Linked DNA regions of Homo sapiens. The protein of the gene in region 1 interacts with the protein of each later gene in a biochemical or structural test. Each region holds a gene or a part of one and is shown in the gene's direction. Other genes may lie near its edges. The genes, in order: APOBEC1, DND1 and A1CF.

What was found.
Region 2: the proteins of APOBEC1 (region 1) and DND1 form a complex in vitro, tested with the Homo sapiens proteins (one study listed by BioGRID).
Region 3: the proteins of APOBEC1 (region 1) and A1CF form a complex in vitro, tested with the Homo sapiens proteins (one study listed by BioGRID).

The regions. Positions count from the first base shown.
Region 1 is NC_000012.12:7,662,820-7,670,396, reverse strand, and holds the start of APOBEC1 (C->U-editing enzyme APOBEC-1), read left to right. Parts: upstream 1-4,488; 5' UTR 4,489-4,524; coding exon 4,525-4,540; intron 4,541-7,577. UniProt on the Homo sapiens protein: Cytidine deaminase catalyzing the cytidine to uridine postranscriptional editing of a variety of mRNAs. Form complexes with cofactors that confer differential editing activity and selectivity.
Region 2 is NC_000005.10:140,670,482-140,677,433, reverse strand, and holds DND1 (dead end protein homolog 1), read left to right. Parts: upstream 1-3,857; 5' UTR 3,858-3,891; coding exon 3,892-3,915; intron 3,916-4,045; coding exon 4,046-4,163; intron 4,164-4,527; coding exon 4,528-4,989; intron 4,990-5,088; exon of another isoform or gene 5,089-5,683; coding exon 5,684-6,141; 3' UTR 6,142-6,640; downstream 6,641-6,952. Other genes in the region: HARS1 (histidine--tRNA ligase, cytoplasmic), read left to right, coding at 14-107, 318-445, 538-780, 2,301-2,417, 2,609-2,755, 3,106-3,177.
Region 3 is NC_000010.11:50,882,594-50,890,296, reverse strand, and holds the start of A1CF (APOBEC1 complementation factor), read left to right. Parts: upstream 1-4,669; 5' UTR 4,670-4,716; intron 4,717-7,703. UniProt on the Homo sapiens protein: Essential component of the apolipoprotein B mRNA editing enzyme complex which is responsible for the postranscriptional editing of a CAA codon for Gln to a UAA codon for stop in APOB mRNA.

The DNA.
Region 1 (7,577 bases):
TTGTAAACTGAGGAGCATTTGTATACAGATATGACAAAGCTTGTATCCACAATACGTAAAAAACTCTTACAACTCAGTAATGAGACAAAGAACCCAATTAAAAAATGGACAAGGCCAGGTGTGGTGGCTCACACCTGGTAATCCCAGCACTTTGGGAGGCTGGGGCAGGTGGATCACCTGAGGTCAGGAGTTTGAGACCAGCCTGACCAACATGATGAAACCCCATCTCTACTAAAAATGCAAAAATCAGCCAGGCATGGTGGCACACGCCTGTAATCCCAGCTACTCGGGAGACTGTGACAAGAGAATCACCTGAACCCGGGAGGAGGAGGTTGCAGTGAGCCAAGATGGGGCCATTGTACTCCAACCTGGGCAACAAGAGCAAAATTTTGTCTCCAGGGTGGGTGGGAGGTGGGCGAGGTAGGGAGGGAAGACAAAAAATTTGAACAAGTTTCAGAAAAAAGATATATAAATAACTAATAAGTACATGAAAAGATGTTCATTGCATTTAATTTTAATGCAAATTAAAATCACAATGAGATACTACCACACACTCACAAGTATGATTGTAACTAACAGGGCTGACATTACTAAGTACTGATGAGGTTGTATAACAATTGGGGCTCTCTTATACACCTGATGAAAATGTAAACTGGTAACAACAATTTGGCATTTTCTTCAGTTAAATGTAGCTGGGTGTAGTGGCTCACACCTGTAATCCCAGAACTTTGGGGAGGCCAAGGCAGGAGGATTTCTCAAACCCAGGAGTTCAAGACCAACTTGGGCAATATAGTGAGACCCTGTCCCTATAAAAAATAAAATCAATTTTTTAAAAAAGAGTTAAATGTGCATTTACCTATTTGATCCAGCAATTTCACTCTTGGGTATTTACCCAAGAGGAAGAAAAAGAGACATGTTTACACAAAGAATTGTATACAAATGTTCACAGCAGCTTTATTCATGAAAGCCTAAAATTGGAAATAACCCAAAGTACATCACATCGACAGAAGAATATACAAATCGTAGCATACCTATGCAATGGAATACTATTCAGCAATGAAAATTAACCACCAATACACCTAATCATGTAGACCGATTTTACAGAAAAGCTGAAGAACAGCCTGGCCAACATGGTGAAACCCCGTCTCTACTAAAAATACAAAAAGTTGTATAGTGAGACCCTGTCTCAAAAAAAAAAAAAGGAAAAGCTGAGCAAAAGAACACACAAAAGTGTGCACAATGCATGATTCCATTTGTATGAAGTTCTATAATAGTCAAAACTAAACTATAGAGACAGAAAGAGCAGTATTTGCCTGGGACTAGGAGTAGGAGGATAGCTGCTAACACACAGAATTGGGGGGTGCTGGCCAGGCATGGTGGCTCACACCTGTAATCCCAGCACTTTGGGAGGCCAAGGTGGGTGGATCACTTGAGGTCAGGAGTTCGAGACCAGCCTGGCCAACACGGTGAAACCTCATCTCTACTAAAAGTACAAAAATTAGCTGGGCATGGTAGTGCATCTCTGTAATCCCAGCTACTTCTTGCAAGGCTGAGACATGAGAATGGCTTGAACCCGGGGGGCTGAGGCTACAGTGAGCCAAGGTCAAGCCACTGCACTCCAGCCTGGGCGATAGAGGAAGACCCTGTCTTAAAAAAAAACAAAAAAACAAAAGAACTTTTGGGGTGATGGGAATTTTAAATATCTTGACTGGAGTAGTTACATAAGTGTATGTATACATTTTTCAAAATTCATAAATTTTCAGGTGCAGGACAGACTTAAACTGAATAGCTACATTTCATCCTTGATTATCTTTGACCTCACTTACAAATAATTAACCACATGATAGTCTGTCATATGTCATAGTTCCAAGTTTTCTTAAACAAAACAGAACATGGACGAAGCGCTCAATAGGCATTCTAGTAGAAAACAAACCCAAGTTTTGCACCCTCTTGGCTGCTGCATGTTTACTTCCTGGGAGCATGTCCTACCATATCAGTTTCCTATTGCCGCTTCATGAAATTGCCACAGACTTAATGGTATAAAACGACACACATTGTTTTATAGTTCTGGAGGTCTGAAGTACAAAACAGGTCTCACTAAGCTGACATCAAGGTGTCATCAGGGTAGCATTTCTTCTGGAGGCTCTGGGGGAGAATCCATTCCTTGCCTTTTCCAGCTTCTACAGGCTTTCCTCATTCCTTGAATCGTGGCTCCCTTTGAGCCAGCAAGCAGAATTCTGCTCTCATCCTCATATCTCCATTTCGCATCCTGACTCTGACTCTTCTACCTCCCTCTTATAAGGACCCTGTGATTAGACTGTGCCCACCTGCATAATCCAGGATTGTCTTCTCATCTCAAGATTTTTAATTAACGACAAAGACCCTTTTGGCACTTAAGTTCATATGTTTAACAGATTCCAGGGATCAGGACATGGATATCGTTGATGGCTATTATCTTACCTTTTTTTTTTTTTCTTTTTTTTTTTAGACGTAGTCTCACTCTGTTGCCCAGGCTGCAGTGCAATGGTGAGATCTCGGCTAACTGCAAACTTCCCTCCTGGGTTCGAGCAATTCTCATGCCTCAGCCTTCCGAGAAGCTGGGATTACAGTCACCTGCCACCACACCCAGCTGACTTTTATATTTTTAGGAGACTGGGTTTTGCCATGTTGGCCAGGGTGGTCTTGAACTCCTGACCTCAGGTGATCCTCCCATCTCTGCCTCTCATAGTGCTGGGATTACAGGCGCGAGCCACTGCGCCTGGCCTAACCTACTTTTATTCTACAATGATTCTACTCTTACCTAACTTAGAAAAACTTGGTCTCTGAAGGGCCTTTATTGATGATGTGGGATTTCTGCCCCTTCTTCAAAACACTGGTCTGCCCCTGTCGAAACACCTGCTTTATCTCATGGAGGCTCCAGGTTGACTTTCATAACTAAGTAAAGTCTTGTATGTAGGATTCGGGTTTCAGGTTCATGGGGCCTTGAGATTCAAAGTTCAGGAGTTCTAGATTTGAGACACTAGAGGGAGACTTAGGCCTTGAAAAAGTGACCTCAATTCTAGGAGTAAGTGCTGAGACTCAGAGGAATTTTTGGCTTGAACTTGACCCAGGGTTCAGGCAACAGAGAGCAATGGCATAGGGAAGTATGGCATTTACTTTTTCAAGGGGGATAAAAAAGCAGAAGTGGCTGGGAGAGGTGGCTCACGCCTGTAATCCTAGCATTTTGGGAAGCTGAGGCGGGTGGATCACCTGAGGTCAGGAGTTTGAGACCAGCCTGGCCAACATGGAGAAACCCTGTCTCTACTAAAAATATAAAAATTAGCCTGGTGTGGTGGTGGGTGCCTGTAATCCCTGCTACTTGGGAGGCTGAGGCAGGAGAATCACTTGAACCTGGGAGGCAGAGGTTGCAGTGAGCCGAGATCGCGCCATTGCACTTCAGCCTGGGTGACAAGAGCGAAACTCTGTCTCAAAAAAAAAAAAAAAGGGCAGAAGTGGACTTGGCCACACACTTAATCTTAGATTCAAGGATGAAGAGAGCACCAAAGACCTGTACACAAATTAGCTGACTCAGAGGCCAAGGTCCTTCTCATTTTGTATCTAATAGCTCCCCTCCCCTCTCCAACACGGATGTAGGACAGAGAGCAAAATGAGAGGAAGTTGGAAATAGGTGAATAACAGCTGAAAGCCAAGGCCACAGTGTGCTCACCAGATAACATAAAAATTTTCAAGCTATAGTTACAGATTAAGTCTCTCTTAACTTTATTTTTCCTCTCATCTCTCCATTAAAGAATGATGCATCCTAGGCTAGGCACGGTGGCTCATGCCTGTAATCCCAGCACTTTGGGAGGACGAGGCGGGTGGATCACCTGAGGTCAAGAGTTCAAAAACAGCCTGACCAACATGGTGAAACCCCGTCTCTACTAAAAATACAAAAAATTAGCCGGGCGTGGTGTTGGGCGCCTGTAATCCCAGCTACTCGGGAGGCTGAGGCAGGGGAATCGCTTGAACCTGGGAGGCAGAGGTTGCAGTGAGCCAAGATTGTGCCATTGCACTCCAGCCTGGGCGACAAGAGCAAAACTCCGTCTCAAAGAAAAAAAAAAAGAATGATGCATCCTTGATGCAGAGTAGGAGATAATGAAAAATAAATAAATAAAACAAAACAAAACAAAAAAGAATGATGGATCCACCTTGCCTTAATCTTTATTTAAAGAAAGAGAAAGTTTACCAAATTCAGATGTCATTGAAGAACTTTGGAATTTGGTACCCAGTGATCCACCCTACAAAATTCATGTCATTTGCATCATAGGCTTTCTCATCACTAAAGATGCAAATCCCCACGATAATGTCCCTCTCAGTCGGCCCCCTGTTTGTACAGACAGCTCAGATTCCCATAACTGCCTGAGATGCGGGAATGAGTCATCCTCTGCCCAAGCAGGTGGCAGTGGGCACACCTGAAGCAACAAAGTCCAGGAACAATCAGCACAACTTATGACTCCAGAGGAGGAAGTCCAGAGACAGAGCACCATGACTTCTGAGAAAGGTAAAATGGATCCGGGGGCTTGGCAAGTATTCTTGAACAATGCAAGAATGGTGTGTGTGTGTGTGTGTGTGTGTGTGTGTGTGTGTGTGTGTGTGTGTGTGTGTCCTGCTGATTCTTGCATCTGTGGGTGTTTTCAAACTTCCCTATTATTGATTAATATATTAGTCTTAAATAAGATGGTTTATTATTAGTAAATATTTACATCTCCAAGTGACTTTAACCAAATCAGTGTTTGTTTCACCATGATAAAAAATTAAGTAGCCAGGCGCTGTGGCTCACACCTGTAATCCCAGCACTTTGGGAGTCCAAGGAGGGTGGATCACTTGAGGCCCAGGGTTTGAGACCAGCCTGGCCAACATGGTGAAACCCTATCTGTACTAAAAATACAAAAATTAGCCAGGCATGGTGGCGCATGCCTGTAGTCCCAGCTACTCGGGAGGCTGAGGCAGGAGGATCACTTGAACACAGGAGGCGGAGGTTGCAGTGACCTGAGATCACGCCACTGCACTCCAGCCTGGGCAACAGAGCAAGACTCTGTCTCACAAAAATAAAAAAAAAGTTAAGTAAAAGTACAACTGTTTAAATAACAGTTTAAGGTAACAACAGACGTGATAGCATGAGAACAATGTGCTAATTGACAAATGAATTGACTATAACTAATTGATAAATTTGTGCACAGTCAGTGTTAGAAAAATGCATGGGAGAGGAAGAACACTTCAGGCTGAAGGAAGTAATTTCAGCTGAGCTAGGATTTGAGCTGGATTCTAAGAGAAGTGTAGACCTAAAAAAATTTTTATCTTATTTTGTTTTTAGAGACTAGCGGGTGGGTTCACTACTTCGCCCAGGCTGGTCTGGAACTCCTGGGCTCAAGCAATTCTCCACCCTTGGTCTCTCAAAGTACTAGGAATACAGGCATGAGCCACCATGCCTAACCAAATTTTTTTTTTTTTTTTTTTAAGACTCGCCCTGTTGCCTAGGCTGGAGTACAGTGGTGTGATCACTGCTCACTGCTGTCTTGACCTCCTGGGCTCAAGAGATCCTCCCGCCTCACCTTCCTGGGTAGCTGGGACAACAGGCATGGGCCACCAGCCCTGCTAATTTTTTTGTAGAGATGAGGTCTTGCTTTATTGCTCAGGCTGGTCTTGAACTCCTGGGCTCAAGTGATCCACTAGCCTCGGCCTCCCAAAGTACTGGGATTACAGGTGTAAGCCACCATGCCAGGCCAGAAGGGCAGACTTTGGATCGACAAAGAAGAGGAGATTCCAGGTTGATTGAATCCTATTGATGAACAGAATTTAAAAGCTTTTATAGAGACTTGTGTCTGGAATATAATGAATAAACTGGTTAGGCTACAAAAAATTTATGTAAACAATTTGCAGTAAGACCAGAAAGCAAATTTGAAGTGTTATTATACTATAGAGGACTTCGAATGCCAGGCTCAAGGAATGAAAGTTTTTCTTTATGGTAGAGGGAATATCTTTGGAGAATTTATGAATAGCACAGAGATATGACTAAAATAGTGCTTTAGACACATTTACTTGACATGTGATGGGTTTTGGACTGGAAGCAAGGAGACCAGTTAGAAGACTATTGCAATAGTGTGAGTGTGATGGGGCAGAAGGTAATATAGATATCAGTTTGGAGTTGAAGTAACAATTTATTTTCTCCTTTATGTTCTTCATCTGTTAGAATTCTTTTTTAAGGTCAGGTGTGATGGCTCACACCTGTAATCCCAGCACTTTGGGAGGTCAAGGCAGGCGGATCACCTGAGGTAGGGAGTTTGAGACCAGCCTGACCAACATGGAGAAACAACGTCTCTATTAAAAATACAAAATTAGCTGGGCACGGTAGCACATGCCTGTAATCCCGCTACTTGGGAGGCCAAGGCAGGAGAATCACTTGAACCAGGGAGGCGGAGGTTGCAGTGAGCCGAGATCGCGCCATTGCACTCCAGCCTGGGCAACAAGAGCAAAACTCCATCTCGGGAAAAAAAAAAAAATTCTTTTTTAAGTGGCATACTGGGGGAAAGACCAAACACATTATTTGATTGTAGTAGCTAATACCTTCCCTGGACTTTTCTTATGAAGGTGGTGTGTTCTATACCTCAAACTGTCCCCAGTCATGTGGCTGGTATCCTTGTCTTTGCATCCCAGGAATAATATTGATCAGTGTAGACACAGCATATGTCTCACCGTCCCTTTCTGAACTTCTCACTGCTGCTTCAGCTCTTTCAGAGAAAGTGTCTTCCCATCATCAAATGCCTTTTTCCTATGATGTGGCCTCTGTTTATGTAAGGCTCCCTCGGAGTAGATTACTGGTTCAAGGGCCCCAATTTGCACTAAGATCTGAGAAGAGCTCATTCCAACGTGCCAGCCACCCCCTTCCTCCTTCCTCCCAATGCTCAAATCCCCCATTCCTCCTTTAAAAGTAAGAGATTTGTTCTTCAGGTCACACTTGGAATAGTGTTTCCTGACTTCGTCCTATTTCCTAGATATCTGGCTAATTTCTCATTTTAGTTCTTCTCCCCAGCTAGAACCACTCTCTGCAAAAAAACCATGCCATGCCCAAGTCCTTTCTACAACTCCTCTACCATCCAGTGCAAATGCATAAAAAGTAACACACACAAACAGGTACACACACAGCCTAGGGTAAAGCATGCTCTGTTTTAAAGGAAGTGTCTTCCAGAGCCTGTGACTCTTCTCTGTTCAAAAATAGCACCTGCGAGTTAAGGTTTGGCCAGGAGCGTGGGATGAATTTCTTGCCTGCATCTCCCCAAATCACCCTTAGAGGTTCAGGCCTTGTCAGCGCCCATTTTATTGCCAGGAACATCCCCAAGCCTCTGAGTCCTGAGAGGCGCAGGTCTCTAAAATTCAGTACTCTCCCTTGAATCATCCCCATACTCTCTAATGGCTTCTTACACTTAGCATACTATCCAGAGCTGGTAAGGCCCTGTGGCTTACCCCCTCCATTGCTCATCTCCCTCCATTGCAGGTCTTGATCACTCCGACCCAGCCAAGCTGACTTGCTTGCTCTTCCT
Region 2 (6,952 bases), on another chromosome or scaffold:
TCTGTCTGCCTAGGTGTCCTGGGAAGAGGTGAAGAATGAGATGGTGGGAGAGAAGGGCCTTGCACCTGAGGTGGCTGACCGCATTGGGGACTATGTCCAGCAACATGGTGAGGAACAGAACCAAGCCTCCCCAGCAGCCGTCCCACTGCCCTCAGTCCTAAAGTTGAAACTGTTCTGTGTTATGTATGTAGGGGAGTGAGTGTGTCTATGCATATGTACACACACATGCATGGGCGACTAGAGTCCAGGCAAGAAGGTCAACCCTCCTTACCTTTTTTGTTTCCTTGTCAGCCTCACTCACAAGTCTGTCTCCCCAGGTGGGGTATCCCTGGTGGAACAGCTGCTCCAGGATCCTAAACTATCCCAAAACAAGCAGGCCTTGGAGGGCCTGGGAGACCTGAAGTTGCTCTTTGAGTACCTGACCCTATTTGGCATTGATGACAAAGTGAGTCAAGTTGGGGACGGGATCCCTTCTGAGCTCTGGGGCTTCAGGTCCCTGATCTTAATCTGGCACTGACCATTTTCTTATCTCCACAGATCTCCTTTGACCTGAGCCTTGCTCGAGGGCTGGATTACTACACTGGGGTGATCTATGAGGCAGTGCTGCTACAGACCCCAGCCCAGGCAGGGGAAGAGCCCCTGGGTGTGGGCAGTGTGGCTGCTGGAGGACGCTATGATGGGCTAGTGGGCATGTTCGACCCCAAAGGGCGCAAGGTGCCATGTGTGGGGCTCAGCATTGGGGTGGAGCGGATTTTCTCCATCGTGGAACAGAGACTAGAGGTAGGTCCTAGGAGGTAGGTAGAAGATAGTCTGAGCAGGTGGTGGCACCTAAGCTATCTGATCTCCAAGGGAGCAAGTGGTGCTGCTTTGGGCAGGGAGCATCTCACAGAAATGGAGAAAAGATTATTGCTCTTTTTCACAGATTTCTACCCCATTATATGTAAGTTTTATGGATCTTTAATCCATAATCTTTCTGCACTCAATCCTCTGCTCTGGGTCTCTACTTCCTTCAGGGCTGTCACAAACCTGGGCTGGTGTATCCAAGACTTAGATCTTCCTCATGATACGGAATACTTAACATTTTACTGCCTTGTGCCAGGCACTGTGCTTGGTGCTTTTCATGCATTATCAAAATATAATTGTTACTACAGCCCTGTGAGAGTAGCTAATTTTATTAATTGCATTTTCCAGATGAGAACACTGAAGCATTATAGATCAAATAATTTGCTTAAGGCCATGAAACTTGTAAGTGGTAGGGTCAGAATTTGAATCCAGGCAGTCTGACTCCAAAGTCTTGCCACTAACCACACTGCAATACTGTCTCTAAATGGGAAGCATGTGTCTGAGGCCCTGGGATCCCTCAGATGGCTACCGTGACTCTCTAGCACCTAGAGTAACACCAAGGAAGCCTCTTGTAGCCTCAAGCCCTCCTTTGTTGCTGCTGGTCTTAAGTGGCTGGTTGCATTTCATCTTCTGGGAAATGCTCTGGCAACCTCCCCACAGTCCTATGCCTTTTCTCTAGGGTGGAAACCACCCATTTCCCAGTTGAGATCATTTTTCCAGTAGGCATCTTACATTCTAAGAACTATGAAAATAGTTTTCCTGAAAAAGACAAGGGAAGCAGCAGCAGCATTCTCCTTTCCCCACACCCATATACACGCCTGTGCCCTGTAACTGAAGTGTGAGAGGCACAGTGTCATAAATGGGTAGATAGTAAGTGGGGACTAAAACTGTCAAGGGTGATCTAATTGGGGTGGGCTCATAGTAGTACTTCTGTGTGAATGCTTTGGTGGACCCTTAAGGTACTACATGGACCAGCCTGGGCAACATGATGAGACCCTGTCTCTACAGATTAAAAAAAAAAATTTTTTTTTTTTTTTAAATTAGCTGAGTATGGTGGTGTGTGCCTGTAGTCAGGAGGCTGAGGTGGGAGGATCACTTGAGCTTGGGAGGTCGAAGCTGCAGTGATCACACCACGGCACTTCAGCCTGGATGACAGAGACCCTGTCTCAAAAAAAAAAAAAAGGTACTACATGGAGATAAGCTTGAAGTTACTGTAAAAAAGCTACCTTTACTCTTGCCCTAAGTTATTTATTCTGATACGTCCTATGTACAAGTCAGTCAGTTCAGTCCTCATATCTACTAAAAGCTACCTTTATGCCCAAGGTGCTAGATGAGAAGACAGGGCCCCTGCCCTGGTAGAGCTGAGTTGGGCCTGGTCTCAAAATCCCGACTAGAGCCTGCTTTGTTTGCTCCTTGAAGGTGTTAGCCCAGCTCTCTTTTATCTGCCCCTTCCCCAGGCTTTGGAGGAGAAGATACGGACCACGGAGACACAGGTGCTTGTGGCATCTGCACAGAAGAAGCTGCTAGAGGAAAGACTAAAGCTTGTCTCAGAACTGTGGGATGCTGGGATCAAGGTATGGGAGGCAAGCCCCAGGGTGGCAGCAAACTTAGGTGTGCTGGACACAAACTGAATAAAAGCTCACCCATAATGGATCCTGCCATTACTTCTCAAAAGTAGAGCTAAGAACAGGGTGCCAGCTTGGACACCCTCTGTCCCTGAGGACAGCAGAAGCCAGCCTTCATCTTCTGCTCTTGTCCCCTGCAGGCTGAGCTGCTGTACAAGAAGAACCCAAAGCTACTGAACCAGTTACAGTACTGTGAGGAGGCAGGCATCCCACTGGTGGCTATCATCGGCGAGCAGGAACTCAAGGATGGGGTCATCAAGCTCCGTTCAGTGACGAGCAGGGAAGAGGTGAGGGAGGTGGGCAGGAAGGCTAAGGGACAGAGAATGTATGCCATTTTGGCAGGCCCATGCCCATTCAAGACCTGAGAAAAAGCCTGGCATTGATATTAGTACAACTCATAAAAGCCTTGAGGGCTTAACCTGTTACTGTGGTCTTAGTAGGGTGAGATCTCCATCCCTGCATATACCTTATGGTTTGTTGGCTCCCCCAAGAGGCACACTCTAGCCTGAGGTGTTTAATTAGGTTCCTGCTCCCAGCTGAGACAAGCCTGATGCCTAGAGGGCTAGAGGAAACTAGGCACTCGGGGAGCAGTGGAATGGAAGATGCTTATACCACCTTCTTCTCCCATCCTGGCCAGGTGGATGTCCGAAGAGAAGACCTTGTGGAGGAAATCAAAAGGAGAACAGGCCAGCCCCTCTGCATCTGCTGAACTGAACAAACTATCAGAGGAAAGGAAGTGGGACTGGCACTATTTGAGGTTAAGACAAACTGCATATGTACTTCAATTGCTTTGCACTTTTCCGTTTCAGCGGAAGACCTGAAGAGTGGTCAGAACAGAGCCTTTGATTTTTATTATGGTTATTTTATTGATTATTACTGGCAAAAACGGCCAGGTACAACACCTTTTTCATACAAGGCCCAGGAGGCTTAGTCCAGTCTGTGCTCCTGGGCTACAAGGACCCAGCCTGAGATGGTCCCATCTGCAGGGCCCCGCACCAGTTGGAGCAGATGCCTCCCCACCACCAATTGCCAAAGGTCCAATAAAATGCCTCAACCACGGAGTCTGCGTGTGTCAGTGATGCCTAGCCCCGCCTTCCCCAGCAGACCAATGTAGGGATGGAAAAGGGAGAAAAACAGTAAACTTGTGACCCTGAGGTTCTTGTCTCCAGCGTCCACCCTGCGGCTTGGGAGCTCCTCCTCGGGAGGCAGCCCCCGTACATACGCACCCGCGACTTTGCAGCTTTCACCTGAAGGTCTGAGCGAAGCCCGGGCGGCGCACGTGCAGTGGATACCTCCACCCCCCTGGGAGGCGGGGTCGCGCTCAGAGCCAATGAGAGCTTGCGGGGTGGAGGGGTAGGGAAGCTTCCAGAGGCCGGTGGGGAGGAAGTTATAAAGAGGGTACGAGGGGGCCAGCTGGAGAGCCATGCAGTCCAAGCGGGATTGTGAGGTAAGCGGCTGGCGACTTGGGGGCCGGCGAGCCCCGCCGGAGCGGGGGTCGGCTTTAGGGACCCCAGTACCACAGGAGAGGTGGGGGCGCGCTTGGCGATCCGCCATTCCAACCTTCCTTTCCCTCTCAGCTGTGGTGTGAGAGGGTGAATCCAGAGAACAAGGCGGCGCTGGAGGCGTGGGTCAGGGAGACAGGCATCCGCCTGGTGCAGGTGAACGGGCAGAGGAAGTATGGCGGGCCACCCCCAGGTACGGTAGTCCCAGCCCCTCCGCCTGTCCGGCTACACCAGCCCCCTTTGGGGGAGGGGCTGCTCCGAGCCTTCACTGTCAGAAACTGCGAACTACCCGGATTTATACCCCCCAGCAAAGGAGGAACTGTGGCTCCACGTCCACCCGCCCCGTCGAGGGAGGGGGCCAATCTCAAGGTGTACCTACTCTGTGCCAGCCCCCTTGTTAGCGCAGTCACCTAATTATGCCAACCACCCAGGGTACGGGTGTAAACCCATTTCACAGACCTTTGTTCACATCGCCTCCCACCCCCGCGCGCTGGGTCCGTGGGCTCAGAATTCGAAAGCGTCGCCTGACGGTGGCCTTGCATACCCTCTTCCCACAGGCTGGGTGGGCAGCCCGCCGCCAGCTGGGTCAGAGGTGTTCATCGGGCGGCTGCCTCAGGACGTGTACGAGCACCAGCTTATCCCGCTGTTCCAGCGCGTGGGCCGCCTCTACGAGTTCCGCCTGATGATGACCTTCAGCGGCCTGAACCGCGGCTTCGCCTATGCCCGCTACAGCTCGAGGCGCGGCGCGCAGGCCGCCATCGCCACGCTGCACAACCATCCGCTGCGGCCGTCCTGCCCGCTGCTCGTGTGCCGCAGCACCGAGAAGTGTGAGCTGAGCGTTGACGGCCTGCCGCCGAATCTGACCCGCAGCGCGCTGCTGCTCGCGCTGCAGCCGCTGGGTCCCGGCTTGCAGGAGGCGCGGCTGCTGCCCAGCCCCGGACCGGCGCCCGGGCAGATCGCTCTGCTCAAATTCAGCTCGCACCGGGCCGCTGCCATGGCCAAAAAGGCCCTGGTGGAAGGTAGGCTGGGGCGGGGGTGCTGGTTGGGGCCAAACGCGTTCTGCCCGGCACTTTATACTGAGCATAGCTGTTAAAGTTACAAGATCTTAGAGTCAAACATGCCAGAATTTGCAACCTTTTACTATTTGATCTCAGATTTTTAAAACTTCCAATGGTGCTACCACCACCGCTTACCTAAATTTGTGACACTTCCCGAGCATTACCTCCTGACTTAATTCTCAACCTTCCCCCACCCCCACACCGCAAAATAGGCACAGGACCCTCAAGCTATGAGGAAACTGTTAGAGAAATTGATTTGCTCAAGGGAATCCAACTGAGCTTTTTACTACTATAGAATCTGTTTCCTCAGACTGTTATGAGAATTAAGTAACATAATGGGTGTACGGTACTTAGCACACTGACTGACTTACAGCAAGTTTTCCCAGTAAAGATTAGCCATTATGATGGTTATGAGGCAGACAAAGCCTGCAATTAACCAGTACTTCTCCAAGGAAACTTGTAAGGTAGCAGTGTGTTATACTCCCTTTGCAAATAATGGAGGCTGAAGGCTTCATTGTCTTTTCTTACCCATGGTCACACTACCAGGAAATGGGAAGGCTACAAATAACAGGACTGTGTAGCTCCAAAGGGCTCACCACCTGGAGGCTTGGGCCCAGGGTTTAGACCTGCCCTTGTCTTTGCATTTTTCCTACAGGGCAGTCACACCTCTGTGGAGAGCAGGTGGCTGTGGAGTGGCTCAAGCCAGACCTGAAGCAGCGACTTCGCCAGCAGCTTGTGGGTCCCTTCTTGCGGTCCCCACAGCCAGAGGGCAGCCAGTTGGCTTTGGCAAGGGACAAGTTAGGGTTCCAAGGGGCTCGGGCTACCCTGCAGTTGCTGTGCCAACGAATGAAGCTGGGCAGCCCTGTGTTCCTCACCAAGTGTTTGGGCATAGGACCTGCTGGCTGGCACCGCTTCTGGTACCAGGTGGTGATTCCTGGGCATCCGGTGCCCTTCAGCGGCCTCATCTGGGTTGTGCTGACCCTAGATGGCCGGGATGGGCATGAGGTGGCCAAGGATGCTGTGTCTGTACGGCTGCTGCAGGCACTCAGTGAGTCTGGGGCCAACCTCCTGTGGTCTGCTGGGGCTGAGGCAGGTACCATGGTTAAACAGTGACTCCATTCTTTCTCCACAGGCACCCTGAATGGGCATGCAGAGCCTGTGTCAGGCCCCATCCCAGCAGGCCTGGGTGGCCACTTTCTGACCCCCAAAGGTGGGGAGGGGCATGGGCCCAGGCCCATCAGCCTCCCTGCTGGGACAGGGACCTATGGCACCTGGGGGCAGCTTAGGTTTGGGTTAAGTTGTGGTGAGGGGCCTTGCCCTCCCGCTCCCAGCCCAGGGTCCAACCTGACCCAGTGATCTTCCATGGCCGTTCCTTGTCCCACCCCCACCCGATCATACCTTCCCCCCTCTGCCACAGCTTAGCATGAATCTTCTTTATTGTCCTGATTTGTCCTCTTTGTTGGTTTTTATTTGTGGGGAAGGGCAGCTGAGCCAAAGGGGTCAGAAATTCTGCCCTTTGCCTCCACCACATGGCATTCTGGTTTTGGTTTCTGTATAGTTTTGGGTCTTTCTATGCTGGTTGTATTTATATTAAACCCCTGGTTAGTATATACTTGTGTCTGTGCTGTCTTGCCCTAGCTTAGAGTTTGTTTACACTGGTAGAGTGAATAGCTGCTACGGGGCAAGTACTTCCTCACATCAGTGCTTTGAGTGCATCTTCTTGTGTTGCACTGTAGGGTATTATAAATTCATATCCAGGCCGGGTGTGTTGGCTTTTGCCTGTAATCCCAGCACTTTGGGAGGCTGAGGCGGGTGGATCACCTGAGGTCAGGAGTTCGAGACCAGCCTGGCCAGCATGGAGAAACCCCGTCTCTACTGAAAATACAAAAATTAGCCTGGCATGGTGGCAGACACCTGTAATCCC
Region 3 (7,703 bases), on another chromosome or scaffold:
GGCACCAGCCACCATGCCTGGTTAATTTTTGTATTTTTAGTAGAGACAGGGTTTTGCTATCTTGGCCAGGCTGGTCTCGAACTCCTGACCTCATGATCCACCTGCAAGAGATATTTTTATTGAGCCAGGGCAGGGAGGATGGTGGCAGGGAAGGAAGCTTCTTATTCTTGGTAATCTTTGACTTTTAGTTATATTTTGTTTTTTTTTTAAGCTTTACGTTTTGCCTTCACCAGCAAAAATTAATGATTTTTACCTAAATGTACTCTGATAGTGAAAGCAAGATTCGTTAAAATCCATAAGCCAAATATTTCATGTATGAATGATTGATCATTGCAACCACCGAATGAGTACTTACTATGGACCTGGTATAGCCTATTTTTGTAAGTCTCTTCTTTTTTGAGCATTCTCATTTCAGCAAATAGTATCACCATCCAGCCAATGGCTGCATTCAGTAATTTGAGACTTGTCCTTTAGATGTCATGCCCTGCTCAGTTCCCATATCCTCTTGATGATTTACCTCCTACACATTTCATGGACCTTGTCTACTTTTCTCTTTTCCCAGAGCCACCACCCTAATCTTAACTACCATCACCTGCCACCTCCCCTCTTACTGGTCTCTTTTAGATGCTTTGCCTCCTTCAAGTTCAAATCACCAACTTACTTGAATATGTACAAGAGTAAAATTATTCTAAGACAACAAAAAAAAAAAAAAAAAAAGGAGAGAAGCAGGCAGTGTTATCCCATGGCAATTTATTCTCCACTCTACACCCAGAATCTACACAAATAGTCCAAGTGGCTCCCCTTCTTCAGATGCTTCCGTGACTTCCTTCCCATTGGCCCTGGATAATGCTGGGAATCTAGTGATGGCCCTTTATGAATCGTCTGACTTGGCTACCTACTCCAGTCAATTTCCCCATCATTTTCCCTCTTGCCCTTCACAACCGACCTTCTACCAGTTTTTTGAATGTGCCTAACTCATGCGAACTCAGGGCATCCCTATGAGCTATTTCCACTCACTAGAATGCCCACCTCCCATCCACACATCCTTCAGGTCTCAGCTTAAATGTCTTGTGTTCTGGAAGGCTTTCCTCAAGTACCTCCCAACCCACCCAGCCCTACACAAGGTTAGGTCCCTATGTTTTATGTTCTGTTTAGCATTCTGTACTTCTCCTTCATAACACTTATTACAACTATAATTAGTTAATCATTGGGGTATATGCTTAATGTGTGTACCTTCCATCTGGTCTGTTAACCACTGAATCCCTTAAGACTAGCACAGTATTTTCCAAACGCTTAAAATTGTGATCCACAATAAAAAATAAAGTTTACTTCATAACCAATACACACAGATAGATACATAATTAGAAAAAAAGTTTCATAAATAGTATTACCCCTTTCTTTTTTGTTTTTTGGTTTTTTTGTTTGTATTTTTTTTGAGACAGTGTCTCGCTCTGTCACCCAGGTTGGAGTGCAGTGGCCCGATCTCTGCTCACTGCAAGCTCCGCCTCCCAGGTTCGCGCCATTCTCCTGCCTCAGCCTCCCGAGTAGCTGGGATTACAGGCACCCACCACCACGCCCAGCTAATTTTTTGTATTTTTAGTAGAGACAAGGTTTCACCGTGTTAGCCAGGATGGTCTTGATCTCCTGACCTGGTGATCCGCCTGCCTCGGCCTCCCAAAGTGCTGGGATTACAGGCATGAGCCACCGCGCCTGGCCAGTATTACCCTTTCTAGATGCAATTCACTTGATATTTTCTGTTCTATTTTAATATGTTAGATACAACCCACTTTATTGATTTTATAGCCTACTAATAGACTCAAATCTCATTTTAAGTAATCACCTTTCTAATGCAACACTTAGCAGAGAGAAGTTTCTCAGTAATTGTTTGTAGAATAAAGTAATAGAAAATTCACATTTACCAGCCACTATCTAAACTGGTTTATTTTTACAAAGTAAAGGCAAATCTTGCCATCCTGGGTACAGTTAGCTCTCTTGATTAGACTGATGAGATCAAGGTCATAAATTTGATCTCATTCTGATGGATTGGTTTCTCTGTCCCAGGGCCAGAGACTTTCTCTCTAAGTACCCCTCAGAAAAAGAAAGGCTGATCCATTGTTTTTATTTTTATTCCTGATCAGTGTATTCCTATCCTTGTAACAAAATGGTTTAAAAAACAAAAGCAATAAAAATAGAAAGCAATAACCTAATAATTCATTACTACCAAATTCATTACTACCACTGGCTGTTAGGAGTAATATATGAATTGTCCTACGGAAATCATCAGATTTTGGGTTAATGCGATTGTAGTCCTGCCCTGTTGAATGCCAGGATCCATCAAATAAGCAACTGACATGTTTTTAATAACTGGTTACAATAGACTGAATGTTTGTGTTTCTCCTAAAATTAATATGTTGAAACCCTAACCCCCAATGTGATGGTATTTGGAAATAGGTCCTTTTGGAAGTAATTATGGTTAGAGTAGGTCATGAGGCTAGGTCCCTCATGACCCTCAGGACCTAGGTCCCTCATTTTAAAAATAGGTGCCCTTATTTTTAAAAAGGAGAAGACATGAGATCTCTCTTTCTGCATGCATGCACCAAGGAAGGCCATGTAAGGACATAACCAAAAAGAGGGTCCTGCTGGCACCCTGATTTTGGATTTCCAGCCTCCAGAACGATGAGAAACAAGTGTTTGTTGTTGAAGCTACCCACTGTATGGTTTTCTTTTTGTTTTCTTTTGTTTTGTTTTTAGATGAAGTCTCACTCTGTTGCCCAGGCTGGAGTGCAGTGGCATGATCTTGGCTCACTGCGAACTCCACCTCCCGGGTTCAAGTGATTCCCCTGCCTCCGCCTCCCAAGTAGCTGAGACCACAGGTGTGCACCACCATGCCCAGCTAATTTTTTTGTATTTTAGTAGGGATGGGGTTTCGCCATGTTGGACAGGATGGTCTCAATCTCCTTACCTTGTGATCCACCTGCCTCAGCCTCCCAAAGTGCTGGGATTACAGGCATGAGCCACCACACCCAGCCTTGTATGGTATTTTATTATAGTAACCTGAATGGACTGAGACTCTAGTTAATATCGTTCCTTTTACCTGTTGTGTTTTGGTGTTTCCATCAGATGCCTAAAAATCCTAGCTTTCCTTTCTTCATCTCCACTTATCACCATCTAAGCCCCTATCACAAAAAACAATAAAAGAAACCCTCTCAAAACTGTCCATCTTACAACATCAACAGTTCTTTATTGGACTGGGCAAACTCAAAGAATTCCCCACTCAATTGGGAACCATGCAACCCCAGACTGAGCTTTCACTAGGAAACCATCAGGGCTACTTTGTGAGGGAATCCCTTCCCAAGAAGGAAGTAGAGGGATGTGTCCCTCATTCAGCTATCTAGCTGGGTGGGGCATAAATGCTTTCTCTAGGTCTAACATCAGGGGAGCAATTCTGGGGTAAAACAATTGTTCCTGGGGTGTTTTTGTTAAACTCTATCATCCATTGCTATGGGAAAATGGTAAATCATTTCATGTTTGAGAACTGAAATAATTCCATGTTTGAGAACTAAAAACTGTAAGCAGAACTAGCATTCCAACAGTATCTTTTATCTCTTCTCTTACATATTCATAGATGTGCTTAATTGATGGATCTTCCTTTGCGTCTATATTATAGAAGGATTGCTTGTTTTGTGCTTTTCTATAGACAAAAATGCTCTCTTAATAGTTGGTTCCTAGAAAATTAGACTCCTTTTACTAGAACTAAAGGCAAGTAGGGGTATCCTCTAATTCTAGTTTTGGAATGTGTGGTTTCCAAGCTCTTAAACCAAAATTTACTCAAAATTAGGAAGGTTTTGGTTCTTCTTCCTTTTTTAAATGTGGGCTTTATTACCCTTAGGGATTTCTTCTGTAGACTACAGCTCTTACCAGAGAACTCAGAGTATAATGTTTGTATTTCTGAAAGCACCATTTCTCTATTTTTCAAGAAACTCAGTTACCACTGAGATTTCAGGCAATGAACAATAGCATCAGCTATCATATAACCCCAGTATGTAGCTGATTATTGTGCTTCTCACACAGTGGCCTCCTCTTAAAATCTAAATGAGCAGCTTGTATACAAAGAAGTATGCTTTCCCCAACCTGATCTGGCCTAAATCTATCTACTTTGTTATATAAATGCTTTGTGTATTTTCTGTTTGTAAGCCAGCATTTATCTACGTACTTGACCTAAAACTCCACACTTTACTCCATGTAATATAGTGATATAAAAAGTGTAAAACAAAGAAATATTCTCCTAAATTACCTTAGCTATAATATCACTTTGACATAGTAAAAAACAAAGGAAGTAACATAAAGGAAAGCTTAGGTATCCAATTGCAGTGAGTTTTTACTTTTTAAATATATCGTATAAGCCAATAAAATATCTTCAAAATAATATTTACCCCAACATTTTTACAACATTTATTTTAATTTTATAAACAAATAACAAAGATAGTTTTAGTAGATTATATCTGGGCTGTAGTGACCCAATTATCTGGTCAAAGGGCTGCATGGATGCAAGAGACAGGGTGAGTTAAAGTTTAACTCCCAGGAATTGTAAACCAAACCTAAAGCCACTGAACCTTTGGAGTTTGATATGACGATTAGAGCATAACCCGAGTGACACGTTGAATTCGCCATAATCAAGGAAACCTTTTCCGGGTGGGGATCTCTGAAATTACTCAGGTATGATCCATGTGTTTTGCTTTTTTCTATTTCAACTCTGTGAAACTGTGTATTGTGGTATCAGTGGGAATGCAGTGAAAACAGCTTTTACCCTCTTCTGTTATCGAGCCTAATTCAAAGAATTATCTAGCTTGTTTTTAGACTAATGAAACAACCAGAAAACAAAAGAATATATTGGAATTATTATATAATCTCTAAATGAGATAGCTGCCAGGATTTAATAAATTTCTGTAGACTTACCACGGAGGGTTCAAGAGTGGAGCCAATGTTGTGAGAAGTTTATTTAGCTCTAACCAGACAGCAGGGAGAGTTGTGGTTGAGTGCCTGTCCCAATCCTAGGACCCTGAGAAACAAAAATATAATTAACAAAAGAAATAGTATTAACATCACCAGCAGATTTTGAGTTCTGTGTGTGGGTCATAATTCCTATCATACTTTAGACTTCATATATTCAATTATCTCCAGAGCTACTACCACCATAAAAAAGAAAGTCTTGGTACAACTCTTGCGATTCCGCCTGCCATTATCTTGCTAACCAAAGGAATGTTTAAACTATTCACTTTTGATTCTGACCAAAAAAATATTATGGAAAATGACTGGTTTTCAGTGTGTTAAATCTGAACCTTGGAATGGCTAATTATTATATTGTTTCCACAATTTGGGCAACTGTGCTGAGGTGGATATATTTTCACATATTTTTTTTGTGTACTCCAAAAACATTATAATGGTATTTTAGCTAAAGAAAGAAATCAATCTGGACATTTACCAAAAATATCCCATTTTTACCAGAAACCCCCTAAACTCTCTGACTTTTTGTCATGATTACCTATGTAAATTCCAAGAAGAAAGGATTCCAAACTAAACAATTTTATTTACTATAGGACTTTTCAGATATGTATTGTATATCTCCAAGAAGATGAAGAACACAGCATTATTTGCACATTGTGCAGGATTAGTGTTTTATAGATCGTATTTTGGCAAATTCAGCTCTAGTTATAGTTTAGGAGCATCAAAAAATGTGTTGGTCTGCTCTGAAATTTTCTTTATAACGTGTGCTATGGAGCATGCAATGGGAGCACAGGTCTGGAAATGACAGTGATATCACTTATTTGTCAAAGCAGTAAGGTTTTGCCCTGCTAAATACAGAGAAAGAGACAAATGACTTATAAGGTTCATACTTTCTGGAATAACATTGACTCTGCCCATTTCAGACAACTCTTAACATTTTACTGTTCTATTTTACTATTTATCGATTTCAAGGGAAAAAAGAAGACAGCTGGCAAGGAAAAGAAATATTGTTGTGGGCAAACATTATAAAATGACATAATGGATATTAAAACACTATAAATACTTTGTTCTTATTTTCTACTGCACTAATGCCAAGGTGGTTTTATGTCATTTCAAATATCAACATTTCCTACACTATATTCAGTGGATGTTAATAAATGTGGCTCAAAAGAAAAGCAACTCCATTGTCAAGTAAGTTGAGGAAACAGTGTTAGAAAAGTTATAGCAGGTTTTGTTACCACATGAGTGTTTTGAGTAATAATGATAACAAGCATCTGTGAAGCACTATATTATCGGGTCTACTTCTAAGTTCTCTCCATGCATTATCTCATGTTATTCTTGGAACAACTCTATGGTGTGATACTATTATAACAGTTTATAAATGGGAAAATGGAGGCACAGACAAATTACCTAACAGGCTCAGCTACTCAGTTAGCAAGTGGCAGAGCCAGGCTCCTTTGTCTGGTAGTCTGATCCAGAGCCCAAGCACGTAACCATTATATCATACGCTCGAGCACTGGGGACTCATGACACATGCAAATATTGTCATTTATCACAACTATCTAAGAGAGTAGGCAACGTTTTGTTTCCTGGGCTTAATTTACAACAGAACATCTTCTTTCAGGAACATCTATCAATATCTCTCAAAATTGGCATTTCTCAGAATACAGAACAAGAAAGACCAAATCGCTTTTATAGCCCATGTCCAGCATTCAGAACAATCAGAATCCATTGAAATAATCACAGTTGAAAAATCTAAAGGACTTTAGAGTCTAGTCTTCCACCAAATAGGACTATGCCTATCTGAGAAACTTTTAAAATTAATTACGGAAAGAACACTAGGCTTTGTGCCTCGACACAGCTAAGTGGAAACGCCTATTGTAAAACTCCCTAGGTTTGTGACCTTGGGCATATTGTTTGACTCCACTGAATCTCAGATTCCTCAAATGTGAAATGGGGGTAAGATCTGACCCATAGTATTTTGTGAAGTTTAAATTAGATGATAAAGCAAAGGAGAGAAATGTGGTCCCCGGTACTTAAGAATTCAGCAAAAACCCCACTTCCCTTTTCATTTTCCTATTTGTAACAACCTCCAGAAAAATTTTCTAAAATTGCCCAAGTATACCTATTAGGCCTTGTTTTTCAAAACAATACTAATAAAGTTGAAATCACAAACTGTACATAAAAAATTTTGATTAATCACAAATAGTAGCACTATTCCATTTATTCAGAGAAAGACAGTCTGTAAATTTTTTTAGTATTAAAGCACACACACAGAGTATATTTTTATTTTAGAGATTATTGCTGAAGAAAACTCTTAGTTATAAAACCCCAACACCTTTTCACCCAAACCCATGGGACACCCTGACACAGTGCATGCTCATTTCATCATGGAGGCAGTTGATGTTAAAAATCTGTTTCAGTAACTGTCTTTTAAAAATTGTCATCCCTTAGAAAGCTGAGTAGTACTGTGGGTACTATTGCACAATGGTTTTCATTACCTTATGTGTCTCTAAAATGACTCAATAAGTTCAAACAAGACAGTATTGATCGACAGAGGATAAACACCATTTTATCTTATTCACAGAAACAGTAACCAGGCTCCTGCAAAGTGCAGCTCTCACAATCCAACTGCCCCCAGGAAAAGCATCTGGAAAAGGAGCAGCACTCTTGCGGTGACATTCTGTATTAGAAATCTG